3 linked regions of the Homo sapiens genome follow. The protein of the gene in region 1 interacts with the protein of each later gene in a biochemical or structural test. Each region holds a gene or a part of one and is shown in the gene's direction. Other genes may lie near its edges.

Region 1 (7,026 bases):
TTAACTCCCATATCTCTATCAGGTGAAGTAAAAGGTAGGTGATAGTAGTTACTGGCAGTCTAGAATGGAAGTGAGTTAATGTAATATCCAGCATTTTTATCAAATAATACTCACCAACATCACCTTAACTACCTGAACAGCATCTACCAATGATACCCACAGGTGTCCTGGAGATCTTGAAATCATCTCAGGTAGAGGAAGCTTTCAGAACCACAGAGCTTAGTTACATTTTCTTTCAAAAGGCCAAATTCTCCAAAAACGTCCTATGCAAACATCCTCGATTTCTTCCATAGGTTTTATGATAAGATCTGTAGAATGCAAAATATTGGATTAGACATTAAGCAGTATCCAAGTCATGTATAATCCTATGAGCAGAATGTCCTTTTGTTTCCTTCATGTTGGGGATAAAATTTTTTATTAGTATTGCCATATCATTTTATTCATTCATGATTAAGTCAATAAAAATTTCAGCTGGGGCCATGGTTGGCCAGGTGTGGTGGCTTATGCCTGTAATCTCAGCACTTTGGGAGGCTGAGGTGAGTGGATCACTTGAGGCCAGGAGTTCGAGACCAGCCTGGCTAACATGGTAAAACCCTGTCTCTACTAAATAATACAAAAATTAGCCAGGCGTGGTGGCGCATGCCTTTAGCCCCAGCTACTAGGGAGGCTGAGGCAGGAGAATCACTTGAACCCTGGAGACAGACGTTGCAGTGAGCTGAGATCATGCCACTGCACTCCAGCCTGGGCAACAGAGTGAGATTGTGTCTCGAAAAAAAAAAAAAAATTCCACTGGCTGGGCACAGTGGCTCACGCCTGTAATTCCAGCACTTTGGGAGGCCGAGGTGGGAAGATCACGAGGTCAGGAGATTGAGACCATCCTGGCTAACACGGTGAAACCCCGTCTCTACTAAAAATACAAAAAAAAAAAAAAAAAAGCTGGGCATAGTGGCGTGCGCCTGTAATCCCAGCTACTTGGGAGGGTGAGGCAGGAGAATCACTTGAACCCGGGAGGCAGAGGTTGCAGTAAGCCGAGATTGCACCACTGCACTCCAGCCTGGGTGACAGAGCGAGACTGTCGCAAAAAAAAAAAAAAAAAAAAAAAAATTCCAAAACTCTTCCCACTTTGTGACGTGCAGTTCTCCAGGCACTGGAGCTATAACTGAACAAACAGCCTGAGTCCCTTCCCTCACACAGTTTAAATCCTAGTGGACAGAAGGCAGACCCTAAACCAATATTTAATGTGTCATTTTTTATCTTTTTTCTACATGAGCAACCCAAATACACCCGTTTAGTGCCAGAAATCTCTTTGTGTTTTCACCTCGTTCTGGTTCCTGGTTCTGCCAGTGACAGATGTACAGGGATGCAGCTTCTTCAGGGTTCTGAGATGCTTTCAGTGGGAAAGGGGCGCTTGGATCTACAATAGATAATAGAATTTTCTGTGTTTCTGCTCCCAAAGATGATCCTGCCAGGTACTAAGCTAGTAAATGAACACGCTGAGTTTCTCCTTGCAAATTTAAATAAGTCTTCTGCTTGCTTTTATCATCAAAAAGTCCTAACTCTATACCAAAATATGAGTTTTCTAATTTGCCATACCATAGAAGAAGGGTGTGTATGCAGTAAGTACAAAAGGAAAATAAATGTCTTCCTTTCAGTGAAAGAGCTCTTAGACCCACTGCTTTTTATTCACTGTGCTGCTTGAAGTGAGGTTAGAAAAGGAAAGCTCACTGGGCTAAGAGTCAGGAGACCCAGGTCTAGTCCTGCTTGTGCCGGTCACTATATGGGTGACTTTGGGAAAGTCATTTGCCTCTCCAGAGTTCATTCTCCTCAATTATAAATGAAAATGTTACAACTGAAAATTTATATATTATCAGCTCTAGTATGTTTCTAGTATTGCATTCGTTTCTCCACTTCGTAACTTTCATGGTTTTTCCAGTGGTCAGATTTGGGCAGAAAGCACTGATTCAAGAACACAGATTTCCAAGTAGAGAGGTGCAGGGTAAATAAACCTCCATGTAAGCCCGCGGTGAGCGCAGACTGTGAGTGACGAACACGGTGTCAGTGTAAGCTGGAGGTGGTGGGCCAGGAGGATTAAACAGGGTAAGGCAGCTTACCACTGTGCCTGGCGATGCGCAGAGTAAGTGCTCAGTAAACGGTAGCTGCTGTTATTAGCACTGTTATTATCATTGTCAGCAAAGAACACCTAGACAGCCTTGAGCACTGGAAGGCACCTCAGAGACTGTCACAGGGGTTCCTTGCTAGGATTCCAAGGACCCCAGTTTCAGCAGCTTCACGAACACCCTGAATTGCACACAGATGGCGTGTGTGTGCACATCCTATATTTCTTACACCTTTCAGTAGAGAGGGTCCCTAGTTTCCTTGGCTTCCTCAGAGAAAATGTAACAAATGAGCACAGTGCCTGGTCCAGAGGGTGGCCTACCTTAGGGCCAGGTGTGCTGACGGAGGTACCTTGAGCTGATACTCATTTCCCTCCCTCCTCAGAACTGTCTTCTCAACCACCTTCTCTCTCCTACAAAGATATGCCAAGTGCTCTTTAGGGACAGTACCAACACTTGACAAATTCAGCTCAGCATGAATGTCATTGAGCCCATGCCCCGTACCAAGGCCCAGGCTAGCGAGTGTAAGGAGTACAAAAACAAGTGGGTGTGGTCGCTGCCCTTGGGACTCACATTCTAGTGGAGAAGTCAAACAGACCCAGCTCAGATACAGAGCGGCGCAGGGCAGAGTGCTGAGTCTAGGATTACAGTGCAGGCTCATGGAAGGAGGTGGAATTTGTGCTGGGCCTATGTCAGAAACTCACAAGCAGGGAGAAGCACGTGGGGAGGTCAGCAGTCCAGGCAGAGGCAGGAGCATCATGTCAGCAGATCGGTGGGAAATCTGGTGGGACTGGAGTCTCTGGAGTGGAGACAGGGAGGAAACAGTGAAAGGAAGATCAGAGACAAGAGGGTAGGGCAGAGCTGTGGCTAGCTTCTGAATACTGAACCTGAGAGGTTTGAGTTTATCAGGTAAAGGAGGAGGACCCTTCACAGATGCTGTTCAGAGTCGTGGGATCCCGCTGGGAAGTGTGGCTGAGCTTTGCTGTGTTGTTCATCCACTTCTGTTTTCTGACTTGGTGTTAGCCACATTTTTTTATGGTAAAATTCAAAAACATAAAATTTACCATTTCAACCATTTTTACAGTGGCATTATCTAACATTCACAGTGTTATGCAACCATCACCACCATCTATCTATATAACTGTTTTAATCTTGCAAAACTAAAACTCTGTATCCATTAAACACCAACTCCCCAGCTCCCCTCCCAGCCCCGGACAACCACCATTCTACTCTCTGTTTCTGTGACTCTGACCAGTCTAGGTACCTCATGTGAGTGGAACCATGCAGCATTTTTCTTTGTGGCTGGCTTCATTCACTTAGGAAATGTCCTCAAGCTTCATGCATGTTGTAGCATGTGATGTGATTCCCTTCCTTTTCAAGGCTGACTATTCCATTGTGTAGCTAGACCACAGTTGGGTTATCCACTCATCTGCTCATGGGTGCCTGGCTTACTTCCACCTTTTAGCTATTGTGAATAATGCTGCAGTGAACACGTGGGTAGAAATATTTCTTCAACACCCTGTTTTAGTTCTTTTGGGTATATACTCAGAAACGGAATTGCTGGATCATATGGTAATTCTATCTTTAATTTTTTTGAAGAATCACGATTTTTTTTTTTTTTTTTTTTTGAGACAGACTCTCACTCTATCACCAGGCTGGAGTGCAGTGGCACGATCTTGGCTCACTCTGCAAGCTCCGCCTCCTGGGTTCAAGTGATTCTCCTGCCTCAGCCTCCTGAGTAGCTGGGATTACAGGCACCCACCACCACGCCTGGCTAATTTTTGTATTTTTAGTAGAGAAGGGGTTTCACCATGTTGGCCAGGCTGGTCTTGAACTCCTGACCTCAGGTGATCACCTGCATCAGCCTCCCAAAGTGCTGGGATTACAGGTGTGAGCCACCGCACCTGGCCCACTATACTCTTTATAGGAGCAGCTGCACCATTTCACATTCCCACCAGCAGTGCACAAGGGCTTCATTTTTTCCACATCTTTGTCAATATGTGTTATTTCTTTTTTTTTTTTTAATCATAGGCATCCTAATGGGTATGAGGTGGTTTAGCCAGATTTGAAAGAAGAAAAGTTTAAAGGGTGGCATAGGATAATTAACTTAATGTTTGGCATAAAGCCCTGCTTTTTTGCCATGCTGTATTTTTTTCTCTTGCTTTTGATCTAGAATTACTTACCTGTGTGTTTCTCTCTATGCAGATGAATCTATAAAATATACCATATACAATAGTACTGGCATTCAGATTGGAGCCTACAATTATATGGAGATTGGTGGGACGAGTTCATCACTACTAGACAGCACAAATACGAACTTCAAAGAAGAGCCAGCTGCTAAGTACCAAGCTATCTTTGGTAAGATACCCTGGAAGGACTCAACGCCTAGCAACCTTGAACTTTCTTACTTGTGAGAAGGACATAGTGGAATCTTAAAATTTCTCTGATAATTCTTCTTGAAAGTTTTCTTATGTTACTTCTGCAAAATATCTTTGTAATTTCCATATAATTCCTTTGTCATTTATTTATTTTTAATATGGAGATAATCACAGTATTTAATTTATGGATTTGTTGTGAAAATTAAATGAGTTGATATGTATAAAAAGCTTAGAACACTGCCTGGCACATAGTAAGTTCTATAAAAAGTGTTAAACTTTCATCATCATCATCATCAGTATTACTTCTCAGACCCAGAAGAAATAGCTGTGTCAGGCCCTCATCGAAGGAGATCCTGTAAAAGATAGAAGACTGTGCCCTCCACAGCACTTCTGTAATAAAATCAAGAGGGCTATCTCTTATAGGGTTCTATGGTGCAGCCCATAATGCTAATCCCAAAGTACAGTCTGGAAAAAGTCATGAGGCCAAAACGACTTGATTAAGAACTCAGCTTTCTAATTAACCATGGGATTGGCGCTTTTTTTTTTTTTTTCTGTAAAGGAACCAATAGTAAATGTTAGGCCCTGCTGGCTTTGAGGTCTCTTGGAACTACTCACCTCTCTTATTGTAGTGCAAAAGCAACCACAGACAATATGTACATGAATGAGCACGGCTGTGTTCCAATAAAAGTGGATTTACAAATGCTGGCAGGAGTCAGATTTGGCCCACAGGCCATAGTTGGCCAACCCCTGGTCTAACCCATTTGAAGGACAGCTTTTAAAATACCTAGAACAGAACTTGCGAATGGTCAGGGGCACCTGTGAGAATCTAATGAAACCCAGGATCTACCCCCTACAGAAATATTGACAAAATTTGGAAAATATCTTGGGAAGTTCTTGGACTGCTGACAATCTATAAGATATGGATAGAGAGAGAGCCACATCACAGAGGGCTGAGGAAAGAAGAGAGGTGGGAAGGAAGAATGAAATGTTTTCTTCCTTATATTCTGTTTAATGAGGTAGTGTGGGGATTAAGGAATTTTTTTTGTTGTGGTTGTTGTACATTTTCATTTGTTTCCTTTTATTATTTTTATGAAGGGCGAAGGGAAGGAACCAGTAGAAGGAGAGAGGTTATGGCTATTGGAGAAGAGGCAATGTCGGTCGGCAGTGGGGTGGAGTAAAGGAGGGGTTAGGGTCCAAAAACAGACCTTGAAGAGTATAGTTACCTCGTCGCTTGAAAGACAAGGAAGGCTTTGTAACTGAATGGGTTCACGCCTGCTGGACAATTCCTTGATTAAGTAAGAGGAAAGTGAACTGTTGGGCCGGGGTGGTGGTCAGGAGTTGAGCGGCTTTAACTCTGGCCAGATGTAAGCGGAGAATGTCTAAAAGGAACAAAAATGGTGGTTTTCCCTTTACACCCAGGAAGGTCTAATACCAACAGGATCACTGGCTAAGATTGACTAGAACACCCAACCTCGTAGCCACACAGGGGTTTTGTTCACAGAGCCATCAGCTGTGGCTCAGGGATGTGTCTACTAGGAGGAAGGAATGCCTTATTCTTTTTTGTTTTGTTTTTGAGACAACATCCTGCTCTGTGGCCCAGGCTGAAGTACAGGGGCACAGTCATGGCTCACTGCAGCCTCGAACTCCTGAGTTCAAGTGATCCTCCTGTCTCAGCCTCCTCAGTAACTGGGACTACAGGCATGTGCCACCATACCCAGCTAATTAAAAAAAATTTTTTTTTTGGTAGAGACAGGTTCTTGCTGTGTTGCCCAGGACTGGTCTAGAACTCCCGGGTTCAAGTGATCCTCCTGCCTTGGCCTCCCAAAGTGTTGGGATTATAGGCATGAGCCACCACGCCAGGCCGGGAATGCCCTATTCTAATTCACATAAAGACTCCATGTGGGCTAGCAGGCATGTGAAATGTCTGCCAGTGCATCAACAGCTATATAACTAAGAAGTTATCTTTTTCACTGTCTTCTGGTACTCTTCATTTCACTTGGGTTTTTTAGCAATTCAGGAAGCTGGAATGTTTGAATGGGTTTTAGCTTGATACCTTCTTCTTTTTCCCATTTGGCAGATAATACCACTAGTCTGACGGATAAACACCTGGACCCAATCAGGGAAAATCTGGGAAAGCACTGGAAAAACTGTGCCCGTAAACTGGGCTTCACACAGTCTCAGATTGATGAAATTGACCATGACTATGAGCGAGATGGACTGAAAGAAAAGGTTTACCAGATGCTCCAAAAGTGGGTGATGAGGGAAGGCATAAAGGGAGCCACGGTGGGGAAGCTGGCCCAGGCGCTCCACCAGTGTTCCAGGATCGACCTTCTGAGCAGCTTGATTTACGTCAGCCAGAACTAACCCTGGATGGGCTACGGCAGCTGAAGTGGACGCCTCACTTAGTGGATAACCCCAGAAAGTTGGCTGCCTCAGAGCATTCAGAATTCTGTCCTCACTGATAGGGGTTCTGTGTCTGCAGAAATTTTGTTTCCTGTACTTCATAGCTGGAGAATGGGGAAAGAAATCTGCAG
Region 2 (7,026 bases), on another chromosome or scaffold:
AGTAATGCTTGGCTTCATAAAATGAGTTTGGAAGTATTCCCCCCTCCTCCCTCCTTACTCCCTCTTCCCTCCCTCTTCTTCCTTCTTCCTCCTCCTCCCTTTTCTTTCTTCTTCCTCCTTCTTTCCTCCTCCTCCTCCTCTTCCTTCTTCTCCTCCTCTTCCTTTCTTCTTCTTTCTTCTTCTTGATAGAACTGTGCTATGAGGTCATCTGTTCCTGGGCTTTTTCTTTGTCAGAAGAGTTATGACTACTGATTCAATCTCCTTACTAGTTATAAGTCTTTTCAGATCTTCTATTTCTTCTTTATTTTAGTCTTGATAAATTACAAGTTTCTAGGAATGCATCCATTTCTTCTAGGTTATACAGTTTTTTGGTGAATAATTGTTCATGGTAGTCTCTTATGGTCATTTGCGTTTCTGTGTTATCAATGGTAACATCTCTTGGTTTTGATTTTATTTATTTTCGTCTTCCTTTTTACTAGTCAAACTAAAGCTTTGTTGATTTTACTTATCTTTTCAAAATCCAGCTCTTAGTTTTAGTGGTCTTTTCTATTGTTTTTGTAGTCTCTATTTCATGAGATTTTGTTATTTCCTTCTGCTAACTTTTTCTAGTTCCTTTAGATGTAAAATTACGGTGTTTATTTAAGATTTTTTTTAAATATAGGCGATTATTGCTATAAACTTTCCTTTTAGAACTGCATTTGTTCTATACATTTTGCTATGTCGCATTTCAATTTTAATATTTCTTGTGATTTTTTAAAATTTTCTTTTTGATTTCTTCTTTGACCCATTGATTATTCAGGAGTATTTTGTTCAATTTCCACATAGTTGTCAGCTTTCCAACTTTCATTCTGTTATTGATTTCTGGTTACATACCATTGTGGTCTGAAAAGATACTTGATAGGATTTCAGTCTTCCTCAGTTTGTTGAGTCTTGTTTTGTGACCTGCTGCATGATCTACGCTGGATAATTTTTCTTGTGTGCTTAAGAAGAATGTGTATTATCTGCTGTTTGATGGAATGTTCTGTATAAAGGTTGAGTATCCCCAATCCAAAAATCCAAAATCCAAAATGTTCCAAAATTTAAAACTTTTTGAGTACCAACATGATGCTGAAAGGAAATGCTCTTTGGAACATTTTTGGTTTTGCATTTTTGGATTAGGGATGCTCAGCTGGTAAACATAAGGCAGGTATTCCCAAATCTAAAAAATGTAAAATTCAAAACACTTCTAGTCCCAAGCATTTCAGATAAGGAATATTCAACCTGTATGTTAGATCCATTAGATCCAGTGTATAGTTGAAGTCCAATATTTCCTTACTGATTTTCTGTCTGGATGACCCATCCATTATTGAAAGTAGGATTTTTGAAGTCTTCTAGTATTATTGTGTTACTATCTATTAATGTCTTCAGATCTGTTAATATTTTCTCTGTTTATTTAGGTGGTCTGATGTTGGGTACATATATATATTTACAGATACTGTATCCTCTTGTGGAATTGGCCCCTTTCTCATTATATAATTACTTTCTCTGACTCTTTTTACAGTTTTTGATGTAAAGTCTGCCCTATCTGATAAAACTTTAGCTTCCTCTGCTCTCTTTTGGTTTCCATTTGCATGGAATATCTTTTTTCCTATACCCATGCATGTGCTTAAAGGTGAATTGAGTCTCTTGTAGACAACCTGTAGCTGAATCTTGTTTTCTTTATCCATTCAGCTGCTCTTTATCTTTTGATAGGAGAATTTGGCCCATTTACATTCAAGGTAACTATTGATGGGTAAAGACTTCTGTCATTTTGTAATTGTTTTCTGATTGTTTGGCAGATTATTTGTTTCTTCCTCTCTTGCTGTCTTCCCTTGTGTTTAGATGATTTTCTGTGGTGGTATGCTTTGATTCCTTTATATCTTTTGTGCATCTACTATTGGTTTCTACTTTGTGGCTATCATGAGGTTTACATAGAACATCTTATAGTTATAGTAGTCTGTTTCAAGCACTAACAACTTAATTTCAATTGCATTAAAAAACTGTACTGTTACTCAGACCCTCCTGCACATATTTTATGTTTTTGATGTCATTATTTGCATTTTATATTGTGTATTCATGAAAAAATTATTGAAGCTATAGTTATTTTTAATACTTTTTTTTAAAAACCTGTATTTTAGAATTAAGTAATTTACACATGACCATTACAAATTTAGTATATTATTAATTTGATTATATATTTATCTTAACAGTGAGTTTCATACTTTCATATGTTTCCATGTTGCTAATTAGTGTCCTTTCATTTCAGCTTGGAGAACTCTTCAGCGTTTCTTGTAAGGCGCGTCCAGTGGTGATAAACTCCCTCAGCTTTTGTTTGTCTGGGACTGTTTATATCTCTTTCATTTCTGAAGGACAGCTTTGCTGGGATACATATTCTTGTCTGGTAGTTTTGTCTTTCAGCACTTTGAATATATCATCCAACTCTCTCCTGGCCTACAAGGTTTTTGCAGAGAAATCCACTTGTGGTCTTATAGGGTTTCTCTTGTAGAAGATGAGTTTCTTTTCTGTTACAGTTTTAAAATTCTCTTTCATCTTCTATTTTTGCCAGTTCATTATAATGTGTGTCAGTGAAGTCTTCTTTGGGTTGAATCTTTATGGGGTCCTATGAACTTCCTGTACCTGGATATCTTTCCCTAGATTTATGAAGTTTTCAGCATTTTTTTTTTAAATCAGCTTTCTGTCCTTTCTCTCTTTTCCTTCTTGAATTCTCGGGTTTGTTTTTCATTTTCTTGGGTTTTTTTTTTTGATGGTGTCTTGTTCTGTCACCCAGGCTGGAGTGCAGTGGCATGATCTCAGCTCACTGCAACCTCCACCTCCCAGGTTCAAGTGATTCTCCTGCCTCAGCCTCCCACGTAGCTGGGACTACAGGTGTGCACCACCATGCCCAGCTAATTTTTGTATTTTTAGTAGAGACGGGGTTTTGCCATGTTGGCCAGGCTGGTCTTGAACCCCTGACTTCATGTGATCCACCCGCCTCAACCTCCCAAAGTGCTGGATTACAGGTGTGAGCCATCGTGCCTGGCCTTGAATTCTTAAAATGCAAATATTGTTTTGCTTGATGGTGTCCTATAATTCAGGTAGGCTTTCTCCACTATTCTTTTTTTTTTCTTTTTTTCTCCTCTGACTAGATAATTTCACATGATCTGCCTTTGAGTTCACAGGTTCTTCTGCTTGATCAGGTCTGCTATTGATGCTCTCTATTGCATTTTTTGTTGTTATGTTCTTCAGCTCCCGAATTTGTTTCTTTTTATTATTCCTATCTCTGTGTTGAATTTCTCATTTGTTTGTATATATTTTTTTATTTCATTATCTGTGTTCTTTTGTAGCTCACTGAGTTTGCTTGAAACAATTATTTTGAATTCTTTATCTGTTAGTTCATAGATCTCCATTTCTTTGTGGGTGATTACTGGAAAATTACTGAGTTTCTTTGCTAATGTCACGTTTCTTTTTTTTTTTTTCTTTCTGTTTCTTGTGGCCTTGTGTTATCTGTGTATTTGATGGACGAATTACTTCTAGACATTACAGATTAGTGTGTTTTTTTTGTTTTTTTTTTTGTGGGCAAAGATCTTTGCCTGTGGGTGAGGGTGAGGGTGAGGGCGCCAGCCAGTAGGTGTGGTGGTTCTGGCTCTGTGGAAGGCCCAGCATTGTGAACTCCATGCAGCTCCATTAGCCCAGATCATTGTCAGTGAGGATTGCAGGGGTCCTCAACATCCAAGGCTGCAGGTATCCATACCAGCAGCAAGGCTTTTTTTAGTCTATAGTGGCAGAGGCTGCTGGGGACCTCTTCATCACTTTTTCTCCCATGGGAGACATTGTGGCCAAGGGGATTCTTCTTGGCACAGGTTCTGGCTTTGGGCTTGTTGTGTTGGTGGAGGTGGCAGCACTGATGTCTCTGATGGCGTGGACACCTGTGGAGCAGCTACAGAGCCAAGGTTTGGAGTGCAAGTGTTTGCAGAAAGACAGCGGGTCTTGGGTTCAGGATGTTGACTAGCCTGCAGCAGTGGTGCTTCTAGTGCCTCAGATGTGGGTGCACGTAGAGCAGCCTTTGAGTTGGGTGCGGAGTGCAGGTGTGCAGAGCAGCCAGAGAGCTGGGATCTGGAGAGTGTGTGATTAGAGCAGCCACAGAGCAAAGGTCTTACATGAAGGTACATGTGAAGCAGCTGTGGCTCTGGGGTCTGGGGCATATGTGGGGGTTAGGGGCTGCACTGTCTGGGCAGTGCAAGAGCTGCTTTTTTTCAGGGTGAGGAGTGCAGTAGTGTCTCCCTCTCCAGGGGGTTCACAGCAGCAATGGGTGCTGGTTACCTTAATGGTGAAAGCTGTCAGTGTCCTCTGCAAAGTAGGCTACTGGGGTTGGCATCAATGAACACTATAGGGTCCTTCACTGTGAAACCTGCAGGAAGTCTGTGGCTATCTTGAGGGTTATTGGAGGTCTCCAGGGACCTGCTCTGGGGAGGAGCCTAGCAGTCTTTGCCACTGAGGACTGTAATGGCACTCACCACATGACTGATACAGGTAGCCCTCACCCCTTGTTCTTAGCCATCTCCAGATGTCTCTGCTAAGCAGATCTCCCAGCAGTCCTTTCTGTGTGGTTATTCTCCCTTTTTTTTTTTTTTCCCTTTATTGCTGTAGGCTGATTGGGCTAGTGAGTTCTTCCAGAGCTGTATTTGTGTATAGCTGTCTGTTTGTTGTTTTTTGTGGGTGGAAGAAGGCTGATGTCTCCTAGTCTGCTGTCTTGCTGATGTCACTCTTGCAAACTTTCAGTCTGCGGCTTTTCATTTCTTTAACATTGTCTTTTGAAGAGCAGATGTTTTCAATTTTGATGATGTCAATTTATCAATTTTATCTTTTGTGGAATATGTTTTTGGTCTTTTGTCTAATAATTCTTTACCCAATGTAAAGACAAATAAAGACAAGGCTTTTTCCTAGAAGTTTTATTGTTTTTGGTTTTATATTTAGGTATATGATCCATTTTTACTATTTTTGCATATAATATGGGCATAGGTCAGTGTTCCTTTTTTTTAACATATGAATATTCTGTTGTATAGTATCATTTATTGAAGAAACAAAAGGAATAGAATAGATATAGATGGTATGTGAACTTCTTGGAACATCTTTGAGAAGCCCTATCAGTTTAAAAACAAATATTTGAGAAACACTGTCATATTATATATAGATAAAAATATTTGATTCCATATTTTTTGGAGGGAAGGTAGTGGATTCTGGCTCAAATGTAATGGAAGAGTGAACATTGAAGAAAAATGAGCAGTTATTGTATTGTGAAAGATCACATTTTAGGAATACTGAGTTAATAGTATCTGAAACTGTTAAGTAGTTCACTTTAAGCACAAAATAGATTGTGTATAATAGTGTTCTTCAGGAGTCAACTTGTTCCCCTTTGTAGGTGCAGACGCTTTTCTTTTTGTTGTTGTGTTAATGGATTGAATTAGAAAATACCGTGATATATAACACACAGAAGGATGTATATTGTTTTATGATAATTTTGTTCCTGTTAGATATGTATGTGTTCTGGGTTGTGACGTAAAATGTTTTTACTATGGAGTACAATGAAAGATTTGAAAGCCATTTTTCTAGAATGATCAGGTTATATTTGATATGAAACAATTTTAAAAAATAATTTTCCTCATATGTTTTAGGTGTGAGTTCTTGATACGAATGAAAGGCCAAGAGTTTGTTGATGAGATTCAAGGTAGATATCCTCATCTTCTTGAACAGGTAAATACATTTTTAAAATTAACAACATTGAATTCTGCTTTATAATAACAAAAATATTATTAGGTTGGTATAAAAGTGATCATGATTTTTGCCATTGAAAGTCATGGCCAAAACCGTGATCACTTTTGTACCAACCTATATTAGAAGTTATGCTTATTTCTCTTTTATTAATTGTAGGTACATACTTTCATCCATGTTAATGACATCTTTGGTTTTTACTTTTGTAACCAACTTGATTTTTGAGGGCTTTTTAAAAAAGATTGTTTTTTTGTTTTTACTATTTTGAAAAATCATTTATGCTGCCACTGTACAAATTTGTGATGGGATTGGAGAAGGATCTTTAGTGTCTCTTTGCTGTTTTCCAGAAAAACAAACAAAAAATAACTTGTTAGGAGCTGAGACCCTTGGAGAGTAACCCAGTTAAAATCTTATTTTCCAAATGAAATGAGAAACCACTGATACATTTTTCTACTTTCCTGAAACTAGAGAAATACTTGATTTCTAATTTGGGATGACATGAAATTTAAGGAAATCTATGTGATTAGGGTAAAAGAAAGCAAAGCAAAGGTCATAAATCACTCAGTTCTCAAAAGAACATATACATTTACTTAAAGTAAGCTTATTTTAGTGTTGTTCTTTTCAGATTGTTGGGGATATCTGCTTTTACCTATTAACTTTTCTCTTGTTTCATAGCTGTTGTCAACTTCAGATACCACTGGAGAAGAAAATGCTGACCCACCAAGTATGTATGAGATAATTTTAAGTATAGAGTGTAAATTTTTATAAGAATTTTAGGAATAGGCTGGGTGCAGTGGCTCATGCCTGTAATCCCAACACTTTGAGAGGCCGAGGTTGACAGATCACCTGAGGTCAGGAGTTCGAGACCAGCCTGGCCAACATAGTAAAACTCCATCTACTAAAAATACAAAACTTAGCCGGGTGTGATGTGCCTGTAGTCTCAGCTACTCGGGAGGCTGAGGCAGGAGAATTGCTTGAACCCAGGAGGTGGAGGTTGCAGTGAACTGAGATTATGCCATTGCACTCCATCCTGGGCAACAGAGCGAAACTCCATCTCCAAAAAAAAAGGTAGGAATGAAAGTATGTATTTTTTAAAAGAGTTTCTGAAGCCATAGGGAAAAATACTGGGAAGTCAGCTAATAAATATTATATATATATATATATATATATATATATATATATACACACACACACAGAGAGAGAGAGAGAGAGAGAGAGAGAGAGTGTAATGACACTGTG
Region 3 (7,127 bases), on another chromosome or scaffold:
CAAACTCCTGGGCTCAAGTGATTCTCCTGCCTCAGCCTCCCAAAGTGCTGGGATTACAAGCATAAACCACCTTGCCCTGCCATAACCCATTTTCTTTTTTCTTTCTTTCTCTCTTTTTTTGTTGAGATAGGGTCTCCTCTGTCACCCAGGCTGGAGTGCAGTGGCACAATCACAGCTCACTGCAGCCTCAAACTCCCAGCATCAGTGGATCCTCCCAACTCAGCCTCCCAAGCATCTGGGATTACAGGTGTGTGCCACAATGCCTGGCTAACTTTTGTATTTTTTGTAGGGATGGGGTTTTGCCATGTTCCCCAGGCTGGTCTCAAACTACTGCACTCAAGTGATCTACCCACCCTGGCCTTCCAAAGTGCTGGGATTATAAGCATGAGCCCCTCGAACAGCCATAAGCTATTTTCAAACCATTTTGATCACTCCAAAAGAAACCCACGCCCTTTGGCAGTCACTCCACATTCCCTCCTCACCTCAGCCTATTCTCTATTCTAGACATTTCATATAACTGGAATTATACAGTATGTGACCTTTTGCATCTGGCTTTCTTCACTTAGCCTGTTTTGAAGATTCATCCATATTGTAGCATGTGTCTTCATTTTGTTCATGGCTGAATAATATTCCATTGTCTGAATGTATCACACTTGGTTTATCCATTCATCATTTGATGGATATGTGGGTAGTTTTTACTCTTTGGATATTATGAATACTACTACTATGAATATTGATATACAAGTTTTTGTATGGAGATATGTTCTTATTTTTCTTGGTTATATACCTAGAAGTGGAATTACTGGATCATATGGTTAACTCTATGTGTAACATTTTGAGGAACTGCTAAGCTGTTTAAAAAGTATCTGCGTCATTTTACAATCTCACAGGCAACGTATGAAGATTTTAACTTCACATTTTCTCCAACACTTGCTACTGTCTGTCTGTCTTTTCTTTTTTTTCCCTTGATACAGGGCCTCATTCTGTCACCCAGGCTAAAGTGCAATTGTGTGGTCATGGCTCTCTGCAACCTCAAACTCTTGAGCTCAAGCAATTATTCCCCCTCAGCCTTCCAGGAAGCTGGGACTACAGGCATGTGCCACCATGCCAGGCTAATTCTTTTATTTTTTATTTTTTGTAGAGACAGGGTCTTGCTATGTTGCCTCGGCTGCTCTTAAACTCCAGGGGTCAAGTGATCCTCCTGCCTCAGCTTCCCAAAGTACTGGGATTATATGCATGAGCCATGGCTCCTAGCCTAGGAATTGTTTTTTCTAGCTTAATTGGATGTATTTAATGTTTATCTAAAGACACAGGATTCAGCTTCTTTGCACAGTTTTTTTTAAAAAATCACATTTATAGTCTTCCCATGTTTTAATATACAGTATATAGCAAAAACGTTACAAGTTATTCTATGCTAAGTTTTGGGATCCTTCTGAGGAGCTTACAGTTGAGGAAGGGAAAACAGTCACGGAAACCATCAGAATAAAAACAACTCACTTCCTGAAAACTTATACTCTTCAATCGTTCTGATCATGTAGCAATTTTCATGCATATTAATTTTAATTACATAATTACATTATAGATAATTATTTGAACTCACGAGAAATCAGATTTGCCTCCCTAATCTCTTTGCTGTCACCTGCAAGGCCTTGTCTTCTCTTAGCTTCCAAGGGCCAAAAACAACATCCAGTTCCAAAGCTGCTATCATTTCTGCTTTGAAGGTTTCCTGAAGTACCACCTCCTCCAGGAAGCCTTTCCACATTGAGATACAGAGTGGACAAGGATTCCTACTGCCAATACACAGTCTTGCATAGTCCACTGCCCCCAGACAAACTAAAAAGATTTTTAAAAATGCATTCATATGTTAATGTTTCAAATCTTCACCTCTTTGTTTTTGTCTGCTGCTAACTTGGTACATCAGAGGTAGTGTGTCTTCTGTGGACCTAGTGTTTTGTTGTTGTTGTTGCTGTTTTCTGCATTTACCCCAACCTGTTAATATCTACTCTTGCTTTAGGGTTTAAATTCTAATATTTTCCTTATCTCCCTTCAGGCTCCAGTTATGCTAGTCCTGCCAGGCACGTGGTGGGTATGGTAAATATTATTTGGTGACGGCCTTGTTAACAGTCTTGTCTTCTGTTTCAGAACACCAGCTAATGAAAGAGTTAAGCGTGAAGTGCTTCATGCACAGAGCAACAGATGCTCAACAAATCAGTGATGAAATCCAAGGATGGTAATTTCCTTTTTCTAATTAGCCATGAGAGCTTCAAGCTCCCAATGGGGTAGTTACCAGAATTTGAAAAGTTAGACAGTCATTTACCTTCTTCTGAGTTAATTTACATAAGCGGCTGGAGTGACCTGAGCTGGGACCCTGCCAGTCATACTGCCCAAAGATAATTAAAAGCCCTGGCTAGGGTCAAGGGACCTGGATAGTAATCTTGGCTTCACCACTGTCTGACAAACCTTGGAAACTCGCTTTCCATCTACTCATTCACTTAGTAAATATTAATTAGGTCCAATTATGTGCCAAGCACGGTGTTAGGGGATGGAAATATAAGAGCAAGACCCAAGTCTCTCAATTCCTGGAATTCACATTCCACCGGAAAGGTGGGGACCGGAGTACAGCCTACATCACCTACAGGTTCAGTCTCCCTATCTCTAAAATGTTAGGACAACCTCTGGGTTCAATTCGAATGTTTAGGCCCTGTTAATTTAGCATTTGATCACAGCTCAGAATATAGCAAAAGTCTCCCACTACCTCTGGCTTTCCCTTACAAAGGCGGGTATTACAAAAAGACTCGGTAGAAGTATTTTCTATAGTCTATCTTGCCCCGGAATGCAGGTCACGACTTTCTCCACCGCTTTTGACCTCTGGCTAGCATTCACACCTATTCTCAAAGGGCCCTAAGTGATACTGCATTTGGTATTCTGAGAAAGCTTGTTTATAAAAGCCTAAAAGGCTTCCTTGCTTTCCCCCAAGCCAGATATTTGCCAAATGGCATAGGTCAGAGGTGCAAAGTTGGTTTTGTCTTAGCAAGGCAAGAGAATCCACTAGCGGACTCACCCTTACCGGTGAGTCCAAGGAAATGCATAGAAAAGACACAGTGGTAAAACTAGCTGGGCACCTGTAATCCCTGCCCAAGGCAAGGCTGAGGAAGGGGGATCACTTGGGCCCTGGAGGTCGAGGTCGCAGTGGGACATGATGGCGCCACTGCACTCAGCCTGGAAGGCAGAGCAAGACCTTGCCTCAAAAAGAAAAAGAAAAAAAAAAAAAGGAAAAGACGCGGCGGTTCCACGAGTGGTGGCTAGGACCCATAATCCCAACACTTTAGGAGGTCGAGGCGGGAAACAGCTTGAGGCCAGTAGTTCGACACCAGACTGGGCAACTGTGGTGAGACCCTCGCCTTAAAAAAAAAGAAAGAAAGAAAGAAAGAAAATTAGCCGGGTGCGGTGGTGCACACCTGTGGTTTCCAGTTACTCTGGAGGTTGAGGCGGGAGGATCGCTTGAGCCCGGGAAGTCAAGGCTGCAGTGAGCTATGGACTGCGCCACTACACTCTAGCTTCGGAGACAGGTAAGACCCCCATCTCTAAAAAGATAAAAGAAAAGAGGCAGTAGTGAATGCAAGCAGGGATGGTAGCCCATGACCAGCAGAGGCCAAACAGACTTTAAGGCAGCATTCCGTTCTCCACACCCATGCCGGAAGCTTTCCTGCCACGCAAGCTTTCCGAGCATGCTAACTCGCCCCAAGCAGCTCCCATCCCGCAGCATCCACTGCAGCCGCTGAGGAGAGTGGCGCAGCGCAGAAACCAGTGCCCAGTGCCCAGGTGGGGGAAGCGGTCCGTGGGAGTCACGTGGGCGGGAGGCCCAGCCAGGATCCCAGGACTGCTCAGGCCTCCGCGCCCCCGGCCTCGCCCCGCCCGCGCGCGCTCGCGCGCCGAGGGCCACGCCCGTGACGTCGGCGGAGCGCGGTAGGGGGCGGGGCGCGGGCCGGAGTGGGCGGGGCGAGCAGGCGCGACTGAATCGGGCGCCGCAAAGAGCCGCGCATTCCAGTGAGTCCACGTGACGCGGCCGCGAGGCCTGAGGTAAACAACCGCGGCCCCGCCTCCCGGGCCTCCGCGCGCACCGCGCTCCTCCTCGCCGGCGGGACGCGCTCCAACGGGGCGGGCGGCTTCCTCCGTGAGTCCCCAGCGGCCGCCGCGGGCCGAAGCAGCTGCAGCGGGCGCGGCGCCCCGGGTCTGCGGGCCGAGCGCACCGGCAGGGGTCGAGCTCGCGTCCCGTCCCCGCCCCCCTGCGCTGTGGCGCAGCAGGAATTTGGCCGGGACCCGGGCGCTATTCGCGGCTGCTGACTCGCGGCGGCCGGCTGCCTTTCGCTCATCTCTATTCTGGGGCCGTTGGGTCACCGCGCTCCGCCGGCCCCCTCCCCCGGGCCCGGAGGGTGTGTCCCCCGCTCCGGGGCTCGCCGCGCCTATAAGGGGCCGAGCGGCGGGCAGGGACATGCAGCTCTACAGCAGCGTCTGCACCCACTACCCCGCCGGGGCCCCGGGTCCCACGGCCGCCGCCCCCGCGCCACCCGCCGCCGCTACCCCCTTCAAGGTCTCGCTGCAGCCCCCGGGAGCCGCCGGCGCCGCGCCCGAGCCCGAGACCGGTGAGTGCCAGCCCGCCGCGGCCGCCGAGCACCGGGAAGCCGCCGCTGTCCCCGCCGCCAAGATGCCCGCCTTCTCCTCCTGCTTCGAGGTGGTGTCCGGGGCCGCCGCGCCCGCCTCCGCCGCCGCCGGCCCGCCCGGCGCGTCCTGCAAGCCGCCGCTGCCGCCGCACTACACGTCCACCGCACAGATCACCGTGCGGGCCCTGGGCGCCGACAGGCTCCTGCTGCACGGGCCCGATCCCGTTCCCGGCGCCGCGGGCTCCGCCGCTGCCCCGCGCGGCCGCTGCCTCCTGCTCGCCCCGGCGCCCGCAGCCCCGGTCCCGCCGCGGCGGGGCTCCTCGGCCTGGCTCCTGGAGGAGCTGCTGCGGCCCGACTGCCCCGAGCCCGCGGGCTTGGACGCGACACGGGAGGGGCCCGATCGGAACTTCCGACTGAGCGAGCACCGCCAGGCCCTGGCCGCCGCCAAGCACCGAGGCCCCGCGGCGACCCCGGGGAGCCCCGATCCCGGCCCCGGTCCGTGGGGCGAAGAGCACTTGGCGGAGAGGGGCCCCAGGGGCTGGGAGAGGGGCGGCGATCGCTGCGACGCGCCCGGTGGGGACGCGGCGCGGAGGCCCGACCCAGAGGCCGAGGCACCCCCCGCCGGGAGCATCGAGGCCGCCCCGAGTAGTGCGGCGGAGCCGGTGATCGTCTCCAGGTCGGATCCCAGAGACGAGAAGCTGGCCCTATACCTGGCCGAGGTGGAGAAGCAGGACAAGTATCTGCGGCAGAGGAATAAGTACCGATTCCACATCATTCCAGACGGCAACTGCCTCTACCGAGCTGTCAGCAAGACGGTGTATGGGGACCAGAGCCTGCACCGGGAGTTGAGGGAGCAGACGGTGCACTACATCGCCGACCATCTCGACCACTTCAGCCCCCTGATTGAGGGCGACGTGGGGGAGTTTATCATCGCTGCTGCCCAAGACGGGGCATGGGCCGGGTACCCGGAGTTGCTGGCCATGGGGCAGATGCTGAATGTGAATATCCATTTAACTACTGGAGGGAGGCTGGAGAGTCCCACGGTGTCTACCATGATTCATTATTTGGGCCCAGAGGATTCCCTGAGGCCTAGTATTTGGCTCAGTTGGCTCAGTAACGGACACTATGATGCTGTATTTGATCACTCCTATCCTAACCCAGAGTACGACAACTGGTGCAAACAAACTCAAGTGCAAAGGAAACGCGACGAAGAACTTGCCAAATCTATGGCCATATCCTTGTCTAAAATGTATATTGAACAAAATGCATGCTCTTGAAATGTCTCAAAACCTTACACCCTGGGAATAATTGCATATATAACTTGTGTTTGGAGAATCACATGAACTTTAATCAGGGTAATAGCACTTTCAAACTTGCTAGTAGATTTTACTGTAGGTGTAATGCCTTAATCATCTTTTTGAATGTTTTCTCAGAGCTGGAGGTTGCTGGGCACCTAAATGATGTTTCATGATAGCTTTGGGTGATTTTACTGCTATTTATAATTTGCTGTATAAAGTGAGCATTACTTAATTTGCAAGCTGATTTCTCACAGTGTAAATTTGTTCATTCCTGGTAGTCTATTTTCTATAAAAATGTATTTTTGCACAACATTTTTAAAAACTGGTGTACCTTCATCTATGACGTGTTCCATTTTGACAAACAGCTTTCAGGCGTAAATCCAGAGAAGTGCTTTATATGAAATGTATTATTTTGAACAGAGTTTGTGATTTGGTAGTTATTTTATGTTGTTGAAATTTGAATTTCACAATTCTTAGATAATTATTTCAAATGGATATTGATGCATTCTTGTTACCAGATGTTTGGCCCATTCCATTTTGATGAAACAGAGCTGTTGTTTTGGAAGTCATTATTTTTCTAGAAATGGCGAATCTTTTAAAGAAAATTACTTAATGGAAGGTTGTGGGAAGGTGTTTTTTTGTGTTTTTTTTTTGGTTTTTGTTTTGTTTTTCCTCTTTTAAGGGATAGTAGCAGGTCTTACTTGAATGAAAGTCTGATATTTGCTGATGGCAGAATGATTATTCTGTACCCTGGTTGATGTGTAGAGTAGATTGTCTGGTGCTCTCAGTTGTTTTTATTTACATTTGTCACGTTGTTGTAAGAGAATGTTAACATGGTATAAAACTCTGTGACAAGATAAGCCTCCTGCTTTATATAACTTCTTGAATCCAGCTAAGAGATTTATAAACTAATGGCATAAATGTCTGGAGCCAACCTTGGCAGTTATAGCAGGAGAACACTGTCTTAATATTTCTTTACATTCTTTCAAAAGGCAAAATAGGATTGCCCTGTATTGATGTAGAAATGTCTGTAAACAGAGCTTGTATGGTTTGCTGGGTCAAACAATGTTTCCAACTTAAAATCAATCTCATTGCCACTTTAACTACTTTTAGTCATATTTATTAAGTAATGCAGTTTGTACTTTTTTTATTTTGTAACATTTTGTGA

The links. The genes of interacting proteins can lie anywhere in the genome.
Region 2: of the proteins of RIPK1 (region 1) and BIRC2, one has a biochemical effect on the other in vitro, tested with the Homo sapiens proteins (6 studies listed by BioGRID, with this or other methods).
Region 3: of the proteins of RIPK1 (region 1) and OTUD1, one has a biochemical effect on the other in vitro, tested with the Homo sapiens proteins (2 studies listed by BioGRID).

What each region holds. Positions count from the first base shown.
Region 1 is NC_000006.12:3,106,484-3,113,509, forward strand, and holds part of RIPK1 (receptor-interacting serine/threonine-protein kinase 1), read left to right. Parts: exon of another isoform or gene 1-308; intron 309-1,318; exon of another isoform or gene 1,319-1,414; intron 1,415-2,818; exon of another isoform or gene 2,819-2,913; intron 2,914-4,319; coding exon 4,320-4,472; intron 4,473-6,569; coding exon 6,570-6,856; 3' UTR 6,857-7,026. UniProt on the Homo sapiens protein: Serine-threonine kinase which is a key regulator of TNF-mediated apoptosis, necroptosis and inflammatory pathways.
Region 2 is NC_000011.10:102,357,206-102,364,231, forward strand, and holds part of BIRC2 (baculoviral IAP repeat-containing protein 2), read left to right. Parts: intron 1-5,690; coding exon 5,691-5,769; intron 5,770-6,462; coding exon 6,463-6,511; intron 6,512-7,026. UniProt on the Homo sapiens protein: Multi-functional protein which regulates not only caspases and apoptosis, but also modulates inflammatory signaling and immunity, mitogenic kinase signaling, and cell proliferation, as well as cell invasion and metastasis.
Region 3 is NC_000010.11:23,434,966-23,442,092, forward strand, and holds the start of OTUD1 (OTU domain-containing protein 1), read left to right. Parts: upstream 1-4,109; 5' UTR 4,110-4,492; coding exon 4,493-5,938; 3' UTR 5,939-7,127. UniProt on the Homo sapiens protein: Deubiquitinating enzyme that specifically hydrolyzes 'Lys-63'-linked polyubiquitin to monoubiquitin.